Linked DNA regions of Homo sapiens. The protein of the gene in region 1 purifies or fractionates together with the protein of each later gene. This does not show direct contact. Each region holds a gene or a part of one and is shown in the gene's direction. Other genes may lie near its edges.

Evidence for each region.
Region 2: the proteins of VWA3B (region 1) and SERPINB7 purify together in Homo sapiens (affinity purification with mass spectrometry; one large-scale study listed by BioGRID and IntAct). This does not show direct contact.
Region 3: the proteins of VWA3B (region 1) and AZGP1 purify together in Homo sapiens (affinity purification with mass spectrometry; one large-scale study listed by BioGRID and IntAct). This does not show direct contact.

The regions. Positions count from the first base shown.
Region 1 is NC_000002.12:98,233,595-98,237,249, forward strand, and holds part of VWA3B (von Willebrand factor A domain-containing protein 3B), read left to right. Parts: intron 1-1,053; coding exon 1,054-1,173; intron 1,174-2,795; coding exon 2,796-2,883; intron 2,884-2,979; coding exon 2,980-3,136; exon of another isoform or gene 3,137-3,210; intron 3,211-3,655.
Region 2 is NC_000018.10:63,788,807-63,792,461, forward strand, and holds part of SERPINB7 (serpin B7), read left to right. Parts: intron 1-3,586; coding exon 3,587-3,637; intron 3,638-3,655. UniProt on the Homo sapiens protein: Might function as an inhibitor of Lys-specific proteases. Might influence the maturation of megakaryocytes via its action as a serpin.
Region 3 is NC_000007.14:99,966,127-99,969,682, reverse strand, and holds the end of AZGP1 (zinc-alpha-2-glycoprotein precursor), read left to right. Parts: intron 1-1,252; coding exon 1,253-1,528; intron 1,529-2,396; coding exon 2,397-2,680; 3' UTR 2,681-2,953; downstream 2,954-3,556. UniProt on the Homo sapiens protein: Stimulates lipid degradation in adipocytes and causes the extensive fat losses associated with some advanced cancers. May bind polyunsaturated fatty acids.

The DNA.
Region 1 (3,655 bases):
AATCAAGGCAGGGCTTACCCTTTTGTTGCCTAGAAAAACAATGATTACCGTATAGCACACTCCTTCTCTATGCATGGAGACCACTGGTGTTAATTTTCTGTGTGAAAGCTACCCATTTGCAGATTACTAGCTAATCTTCACTCTAACTATCTAATTTCTTGTAGGAGAGGGTAAGTCCTCTCAGTGAAAACACAGACACATTTCATTCACGAATGCTGACATAAAGCCTTGGAACTAGGTACTTCTAAAGCCTCCAAATTATGAAGTACAGACTACATTACAATTAGTGTGGTTTATGTTATCAAATATAAAAAGTAATCAAGATGACTTGGCACAGGCTCATTGTCCTCTAAAGCACACAGATTCAAGGTCAATATTTGCTAAGTTGTCATTTGCCTGTAGAAGGGACACATCACAGGGTAGAAAATAACATAAGCAAAGATCTGGACAGCAATTGTGGTGGGCAGAATTTCTAGAATGGCTTACCAAAGATGTCCTGCCCTGAACCCTGCAATCTTTGAATATGATGACACGTCACTCTCATGACCAGGTTATGCTGACCTAGACAGAGTTATCTAGGTGAGTCCAGTGTAACTGTGGGAACTGTGAAAAGCAGGGGCTATTTCCAGCTGGTGGCAGAAGAGAAAGTCAGACAGATTTGAACCACAAGAGGAATTCAATGTGCTATTACTGTCTTGAAGATGGAAGAGTCGTGTGAGAAGTAATACAGATGCCTTAAGCAGCTGAGAGAGGCCGCTGGGCTACAGTCAGCAAGGAAATGGGGCCTCAGTCCTACAATTGCAAGGAGCTGGGTTCTGCCAGCAGCCTGAATGAGTGTGGAAGCTGACTTCTCTCCAGGAGGGGTCCAGCTGAAATTCAGATAAAGGGAGCAGGGCATCCTGGCAGCATTCAGTTTGTGGCAGCACCATCCTCAGAGGGTTGGGAAACAAAGGTTGCATTCTTACTTTAAGGAGCTGATAAAATAGTTATATCTAATGAAGTATCTCCTTCCATCCCCAATTCCTTTAACTCTTCCCTCTGTGATACCAACAGAATCAACCAAAACCAGCCTGCTCAGAAGCCAGATGTCCTCCCTCAGGAGCTCAGCTTGCAGTGAAAGGAAGGATGGCCTCTCCAATGCCAGCAGCCGGAGGACTGCTCTAAGTGACAAAGGCAAGCCAGAAAGCATCTCTGTGGCCAACCAGCCTCCCTTTCCACAGTGTATCTGTTCCAGAAAGAGCTGCGTGTAGATATGTTGGGGAAATCATATTTTAAATGGGCCCAGATTGCTTCCTATTCAAAGGAATCCCTTGTAAGTCAGGTCTGCCTGCTTTATGACCTGGATTTTCTGAGAGCTGGCCTTGTGCTTATGGTGCCTGGGTGTTTAATACACACGTGGCTCACATAACTATGGTCATGCTGCTGCCCCTCCATGGTTTGATTTTGAAACTGTCATATTTCATAGTTGATTTTTTTTCTTCCCTTTCTTCAATGGATGATGCTATCAGATGAGCCCCTCTCTGGTCCAAATTGTCAGCCTTTTGGGGACTGCATATGAGGAAAATGTGATTTTCCCACTCAATTTTTATTACTATTGATAAAATTATTAATCTTAAAGTAATAAGTTTTGAAACGTTTGATGCCTGTAACATTTTTCTTTTATTTCAAATGGTTGATACATTTAAAATCCCAGTTAAACACACACATATACACACAATCCCCTAGGGAGTAGGAAGTGGCTGAGTAGCAAATGTGCCCCTGTGGCTACACAGTCATAGTTTAATTTAGAACTCTGTTTTCTTCATTGCTGATCTGTCTGATATCTTTTCCTCACTTTTTTTTTTTTTTTGAGGTAGAGTCTCACTTTGTTACCTAGGCTGGAGTGCAGTGGCGTGATCTCGGCTCACTGCAACCTCTGCCTCCACGGTTCAAGTAATTCTCCTGCCTCAGCCTCCCGAGTAGCTGGGATTACAGGCAGCCGCCAACAGGCCAAGCTAATTTTTGTATTTTTAGTAGAGACAGGGTTCCACCATATTGGTCAGGCTAGTCTCAAACTCCTGACCTCAAGTGAGCCACCCGCCTTGGCCTCCCAAAGTGCTGGGATTTTGGCCGGGCACAGTGGCTCCCTTTCAATTAACCTGCCATATTTCCTAAGTTGTCTACATGCACATTCCTTAAAGGGCTTATCAAATGATGATTGGGATATGATTTCTTAGCTAGTTAACTAGCTCACACCCAAACACGCCTCCTTCTGAATGCTGCTCATTCAACAAATATCCCTTTTCATTTATAAATACACATTTATATAAGGATATATGTAAAACCCCAAATATTAATTTGAAAATTTGAACTTACAACTAAACAGGACCTAACAGGTTTTTTGGTTTTCTACAGAAAGCTGAAGAACCACTAAACAATCTATCAGAAATTAAAATGTTGATCAAGGCTCTCATATAATTTGGGGGAGTCCAAAAGGTCAATATTGAACAATCATTGGTTAATGGTATTTTTATTGCACACTTTTTAGAGGTGTGTTTTCTGAATGAAAGAATGAATATGTCTCATTGTCTCAAAACAGTGGTAGTGCCGTATTTACCCATGCATTGGTCTGTAGTGTAAATTGCAAAGGAATCTTGCCTGAGAGCCCGCTCTGACAAATCAGGATATGTTCTCTGAAATGTGGTCCATTTATTAGCTCTCAGTCACAGCTGGACTGAGACAAGCGTGATCCCTTTGCATTTTATGTAAAACCCATATGTGAGGAAAATATACAACTGCCACTTCCCCTTCCACAGAAATGAGCATCTTGCTGGCTGAGGAGTGGCTGGATGACAAATCGTCAGAAAAGGTGACGCGAGAAGGAAGCCAGGTTTATGACCACGAGTGAGTTCTTTAATTTGACAAAGACAGTTCTGTTATGCTTCTGTTGGTTAACCATCAAGTTGTAAATTTTAAAACACCACCTCCTTGTGTTCTTAGTTCTTCAGATGTGTCTTCAGAAAACTGGCTGAAGACCTATGGCTTGGTCGCCAAGAAACTCACCCTCATGGATGCCTTGTCAGTGGCAGCAGTCCCGCACAGCTCCACCTATGTTCCCGTCCTGGACAAGCATGTCGTGTCTAAGGTCTTTGATGAGGTAAACTGATTGTCTATACGTCCCTACTTGAGGCCATTTTCATTTTCTGCTCAAATAAAAAGTAGTCCAATTTCTTGTGTGGTTGTAACAGAAATGTATTTTAGCCACTGGGGGAAAAAGTATTTGTAAAGGCAGTAAAAGGGAGAGAGAGAGGCTTTTAAGAATTTGGGCGCGGTGGCGCATGCCTGTAACCCCAGCACTTGGGAAGGCTGTGGTGGGTGGATCCCTTGAATCCAGGAGTTTGAGACCAGCCTGGGCAACATCGTGAAACCCTGTTTCTACAAAAAATACAAAAATTAGCCAGGCATGGTGGCATGCACCTGTAGCCCCAGCTACTTGAGCCACTGAGGTGGGAGAATCGCTTGAGCCTGAGACATCGAGGCTGCAGTGAGCGGTGATTGCGTCACCGCATTCCAGCCTGGGTGACAAAGCGAGATCTTGTCTCAAAAACAACGAAAATAAGAATTCTCTTTTTAAGCTGAGAGAAACTGATCTTGGTTGGGTTGGCACTTCGTGGTT
Region 2 (3,655 bases), on another chromosome or scaffold:
TACCTACAGTCTTCAGTACAGTAACATGCTATACAGGTTTGTATTTGGGAGCAATAGGCTATACCATGTAGCCAAGTTGTATAGTAGGCCATACCATCTAGGTTTGCATGAGTACACACTGTAACATTCACACAATGACAAAATCACCTAACCATACATTTCTCAGAAAGAATCCGTGTAGTTAAGTGATGCATGATTGTAATAAGTAGAAGGTTTAAAACTTTGAAGAGCAGACATCAGTCAAATTATATTTTATAACTTATATTTATATAAATGTACATAGCCATTTATATTTTTCTCAAGACATTATGTCATAATCAAATATGACTTCCAATATGTTCTCAGCCTTTACTGGTTAAACTTTCCTCCTTGAACTGTTTCAAAGATTAGCGAGCTGGTCCCATCAACTCCTGACCCCTCATTTTAGGAAAGAAGGATACAAAGGGACCACCTAAGTTCAAGCTGGCCACTGCTCATCTCTCTCTCCATCTTATACTGAGATGATGGACAGTAATGACTTTCATTTGAAACTTTTCATTTTGGGAGCCCTGAGAGACAAACTTCATCTATTTTCTGACATAGGATGAAACAATTATAATGATGTAGTCCAAAGTATAAAGATACATGCTTTTATTTCCTTTCTTATAGTAGTCCAAATAAATAATTCCATGGAGTGGAAGGTCCCTGTTGAACCTCCCTTTCCTAGTAACAAGTGACCAACTCCACTGTTCGCCACTGCTCACCAATGAAGTCGCAGCTGCAATAAAATTGACTAAAAAACTGAGGGAGGATTAAGGATACAGAGTACCCAGTATATTCTCTCTCTGAATTCTTTCTCTCAATTGGGAAGAGATAACTGCCATATTTTTAAAGGTATTGAAAATCCACATTGGCCAAGAGCTTATTCTATTTTCAAGTAGAGATGTTGCAAAGATGCAAGATTCTCAAAATATAGTGAAAGGTTGAAAATTAAAAGACTTATGCTTTCATCATCTTTTCTTTATCATAACATGCATAAATGTTCTTATAGACTGATATGACAGGTCCTTCAGTACCATATGCTCACAGTGACAGTTTATCTAAAGACTAAGAAAGCTCTTCTATAAATCAAATGCTGATGTTCCCAGGCTGTTGAACCAGAATTGTTCAAGGGTCTCTGTCACTCAGTCACTGCAGGTTCTAGTTCAAAATTTTGGATTTTGAATTTTTCCATAGGTGAAAACATGCCATGCATAGTCACTATTGAAATAAAAATCACTTGCAAATAATTAGGTGATAAAAACTACAACTTAATAACAGCAATGACTTCTTGAGCTTTATTGTAAGTATGGACGTTTCTAAACTGAAAAATATTAAGCTTTCCAGTTTTATTATATTATGAATTTAACAAATTTTTCTTTAAACTAAGCCCACTTAATATAAAAATCCCCAAATTAAACACATTTTAAATTTTATAAACCTCCGTAAAATAATTTTGAATTAAAGGAGCAGAGGGGGCAAGTGCTGAAAAGTTCTCTTCTTTTGTCAGAAGCCACCATGGTGAGGTTGATGACAACAATGATGGTGGGATTAGTTAAAAACAGTCAGCTTTGGGGAGGAAGCATTTAATCACTGTTATTCTGTATATACACTGCTATGAGAAAAATCCTCTATCAGACTAATATGGTCAAAATTATGCCTGATACACAAAATATAGTTTTTAAATTTGGTTGGTACAAATGATTTCCTTAACTCAATTTGTATAGTGCCTCCTTTGTGTGAGACAATGTGTAGTTATAAACAATAAGAAAGAAATATAAGGGATAATATCGAATATTAGAGATAGTACAAATTCTAATTATGAGTTTGTATTCTCGATAAGCTGAAAGTTAGGGGAAGCTCCACATGTTGAAAACACTGTAAAACATGGGGTAGGGAGGGAAGGGGAGAAAGAAAGAGTTTTAAGTGTTCATATGGATTTGACCCAGCCATCCCATTACTGGATATATACCCAAAGGATTATAAATCATTCTACTATAAAGACGCATGCACACGTATGTTTATTGCAGCACTATTCACAATAGCAAAGACTTGGAACCAACCCAAATGCCCAGCAATGATAGACTGGATAAAGAAAATGTGGCACATATGCACTATGGAATACTATACAGCCATAAAAAGGATGAGTTCATGTCCTTTGCAGGGACATGGATGAAGCTGGAAACCATCATTCTCAGCAAACTAACACAGGAACAGAAAACCAAGCACTGCATATTCTCACTCTTAAGTGGGAGTTGAACAATGAGAACATATGGACACAGGGAGGGGTACATCATAAACCAGGGCCTGTCAGTGGGTTGGGGAGGCTAGGGAAGGGATAGCATTAGGAGAAATACCTAATGTAGATGATGGGTTGATGGGTGCAGCAAACCACCATGGCATGTGTATACCTATGTAAAAAACCTGCACATTCTACATATGTATCCCAGAACTTAAAGAATAATAAAAATAAATAAATATTTTTTAAAAATGGTGATGACATAGAGTTTTAGAGCCTATTTAAGTAAAACAGTGCTTTTTTGCATAAAATGACATTTCAAGAAATTTAGGAATAATCATTGGTGGGAAATGTTGATAGGTTCCATGATTCCAAAATTACAAAAAATAACAGGAAAATCTGGTAGGTAAAACTTAACAAATATTAAATTAACACATGAATTGATGACCTAATTTGTATTGGCCCAAATGTTAAAATTATAGCTGCCCAGTCACTTCAGAAAGAGGCTTATTCATTCCATAAATCACAAAATAGTCCACAGGTATTTTTATTTTTATTTTTTTTTGAGATGGCGTCTCACTCTGTTGCCCAGGCTGGAGTGCAGTGGTGCTATCTCGGCTCACTGCAAGCTCTACCTCCTGGGTTCACGCCATTCTCCTGCCTCAGCCTCCCGAGTAGCTGGGACTATAGGCGCCCACCACCACAACCAGCTAATTTTTTGTATTTTTAGTAGAGACGGGTTTTCACCGTGTTAGCCAGGATGGTCTCGATCTCCTGACCTCGTGATCTGCCCGCCTTGGCCTCCCAAAGTGCTGAGATTACAGGCCTGAGCCACCGCACCCGGCCAGTCCACAGGTATTCTGAGTTACATCATTGTATAGTGAAGAAGGTGGTCACATTTCACTGACTATATTGAAAACTGTAGAGTTCCGCTGCTGAAATATGCTTTTCATTCAGTGTCAGACTGGGAGAGCTGTGCACTGAGGCATTAATATCCGTGTGTGGACTGACTACCAGACAAGCATGATTTAATTGGAAGCGATATCACCATAGCATTTATGTAAATTGGCACAAATTCCAAAATCCTAGTAAACCTAAGAGAAAATCAAGTTGTGGTAAAGAAAGAAAATGCAATAAAAATTAAAACCAAGTATGCCTGTTGATGTGCATTCAGAGTCATGGGGAGAATCTGCTCTAAGATACTAATGAACTTGGAATGGCAATTAGACACATTTATTGGGAAAGAATATTTTTATTTTTAAAACCTCTTGCAAACTGTTCTCGTAACCTCTGATTCTAATGATTGCTTTCCTTGTGCCCTGTTTACAGTTGCTTCATGTTAACACTGCCTCAGGATATGGAAACTCTTCTAATAGTCAGGTAAAGACAATATGTTCT
Region 3 (3,556 bases), on another chromosome or scaffold:
CTTCCTCAGGACTCAGCATAAATTCAAACAAATAATTGTCCTTAGAAGAGATGCTATAGAAGAGATAGAAATATATTCATATTCTGTAGCTTTTTTTTTTTTGAGATGGAGTTTTGCTCTTGTCACCCAAGCTGGAGTGCAGTGATGCAATCTCAGCTCACTGCAAACTTTGCCTCCTGGGTTCAAGGGATTCTCCTGCCTCAGCCTCCCGATAACTGGGACTACAGGCTACAGGCATGTGTCACTACTCCTGGTTAATTTTTTTTTTTTTTTTAAGACTGAGTCTTGCTCTGTCTTTCAGGCTGATGTACAATGGCTCCATCTCGGCTCACTACAACTTCTGTCCCCCAGGTTCAAGCGATTCTCCTGCCTCAGCCTCATGAGTAGCTGGGATTACAGGCATGTGCCAGCACACCCAGCAAATTTTTGTATTTTTAGTAGAGATGAGGTCTTACCATGTTGGCCAGGCTGGTCTCAAACTCCTGACCTCAGGTGATCCTTTGGCCTCAGCCTCCCTAACTGCTGGGATTACAGGCATGAGCCACTGCGTCCAGCCTAATTTTATATTTTTGGTAGAGATGGGGTTTCACCATATTGGCCAGGCTGGTCTCGAACTCATGACCTAAGGTGATCCATCCTCCTCAGCCTCTCAAAGTGCTGGGATTACAAGTGTGAGCCACTGGGCCTGGTGCTTTTTTTTTTTTTTTTTTTTTTTTTTTTGAGATAGGGTCTCACTCTGTCACCCAGGCTGAAATGCAGTAGTGTGATTTTGGCTCATTGCAGCCTTGACTTCCCAGGCTGAAGTGATCCTCCCACCTCAGCCTCCTGAGTAGCTGGGGCTACAGGCATGCACCACCATGCTGCGCTAATTTTTATATTTTTTGTAGTGGTGGGATTTCGCCATATCACCCTGGCTGGTCTGGAACCCCTGGGCTCAAGCGATCCACTCGCTTCAGCTTCTCAAAGTGCTGGGATTACAGGCATGAGCCACAGCGCCCAGGCTGTAGCTCTCTTAAGGAGGAACATATCTCATCTGAGACAAACCTGAAATGCCAAACCAAACTGAGTTAGCCCCTCTCTGTCTGTTGTATATATTGGAGTAATAACCTATTTGTCTTGATAAAGGGATTGCATGCTTGAATTGCAAAAACCTTTATTTCTTTTGGGTTGCCCAATGTGCAAGACTAAGAGTTATTTTGATAAATTTCTCACCAGGCTGACTGTCTCTCTGTGGGGTCGGGGGAGTTTTCAGGGTCTCACGTATTGCAGGGAAGGTTTGGTTGTGAGATCGAGAATAACAGAAGCAGCGGAGCATTCTGGAAATATTACTATGATGGAAAGGACTACATTGAATTCAACAAAGAAATCCCAGCCTGGGTCCCCTTCGACCCAGCAGCCCAGATAACCAAGCAGAAGTGGGAGGCAGAACCAGTCTACGTGCAGCGGGCCAAGGCTTACCTGGAGGAGGAGTGCCCTGCGACTCTGCGGAAATACCTGAAATACAGCAAAAATATCCTGGACCGGCAAGGTACTCACTGCTTCCTGCTCCCCAGTACTGAGCCCAGAATAAAAGACGATCTCAGGCTAGGAGCTCAGGCAACATCTTAGTCCGGTCTCATCTGTTCCTGGATGTCCCTCAGACCCCCAGCTTTCATCTTTTAGGATTTATTCCTTCCCTGGGATAATATAATTTGTGGTCCAAAAAGAACATCATCAAAATTTCAGGCAGAATGGGCCAGGAAGGCCATTCTTTCTTGATGAGTGTCCCCAAATCATCTCCAATTAACAGACAAGGAGCTTGAGGTTAGGGAGGTGAGGGTAACACTGTCTGTAAGAGGCAGAGCTGGGACTCAAATTCCAGATTTCAGATTCCAAATCCCATCGTTTTTTATCTCTACAATGATGCCTCCCATCTGGGTGGTGGAGAGAAGGGAGGCGTGTAAAATGTCAGCCCCAGAAGGACAAGAGCAAGCCAGTGTGAGCGGAATTGATGGCTGCAAGCTGAGACTTGGATTGGAGACGTAGTGAGACTCAGGATTGTGCAGTGCTGCAGGGAAGTGGTTGCTGGATAGAGGCATGGGCTGAACCAAGCAGCTGGACTGAGACTGGGGGACAGAACTCCAAAGCCCACTGAGATGTGGGAAAACATGGAGAAGCACACGGAGCATTCACAACTTATTGCCGTCAGAGTCAATACATGGGTGAGGTGGGGATTGGGCAAGAGGGAAAGCGTCAGCCTTCCCTGATATTCTGGAAAGTCTCCCGGGGCTGGGGGTGGGCAGGTACAGAGCTTCGAGCTCTGCTGATCGCTGACATCCAGGGGTGGGGGTAGGAAGAGACCTGGGCCGGGAGAAGTCCACCTCAAGCCTGCAGTGTCACACTCTATCCCTCCACAGATCCTCCCTCTGTGGTGGTCACCAGCCACCAGGCCCCAGGAGAAAAGAAGAAACTGAAGTGCCTGGCCTACGACTTCTACCCAGGGAAAATTGATGTGCACTGGACTCGGGCCGGCGAGGTGCAGGAGCCTGAGTTACGGGGAGATGTTCTTCACAATGGAAATGGCACTTACCAGTCCTGGGTGGTGGTGGCAGTGCCCCCGCAGGACACAGCCCCCTACTCCTGCCACGTGCAGCACAGCAGCCTGGCCCAGCCCCTCGTGGTGCCCTGGGAGGCCAGCTAGGAAGCAAGGGTTGGAGGCAATGTGGGATCTCAGACCCAGTAGCTGCCCTTCCTGCCTGATGTGGGAGCTGAACCACAGAAATCACAGTCAATGGATCCACAAGGCCTGAGGAGCAGTGTGGGGGGACAGACAGGAGGTGGATTTGGAGACCGAAGACTGGGATGCCTGTCTTGAGTAGACTTGGACCCAAAAAATCATCTCACCTTGAGCCCACCCCCACCCCATTGTCTAATCTGTAGAAGCTAATAAATAATCATCCCTCCTTGCCTAGCATAACAGAGAATCCTTTTTTTAACGGTGATGCGCTGTAGAAATGTGACTAGATTTTCTCATTGGTTCTGCCCTCAAGCACTGAATTCATCTGAAACTCTTGGTTTCCCCTGGAGGCCATGGTTCCTGGGCACCTTGACCTGGGCAATCCCAAGTGTGGCCTGAACCCCCTTTCCCTTGGGGATTGTTCAGGTGTCCCTAGACGCCTTGTGGTATTGTACCTAATACCCATGAAGGGAGAGGATGATATTACTTGCCAGTGTACACCCCCCTGTGATATTGTTCATAATGTCCAGAGTGAAGAAAGATGATATTACTCCCAATATCACAGAAGGTGTACACCCCCCCTTGATATTGTTCCTAATACCCAGTTGGGGAGGGGAGAATATCTCTCCCAATATACAAGGGGTGTTTAAACTCTCTGTGATATTGTTCCTAATATTCAGGGGGGACAAGGATGATATTACCCAAATATTGCAGGGGTTGTACACCCCCCCTTTGATATTGTTCCTAATATCCAGGGGTGGAGAGGATATTACTCCCAATATTGCAGGGGTCTACATCCTCCCCCCGTGACATTGTTCTTAATAACCAAAAGGTGAGAAG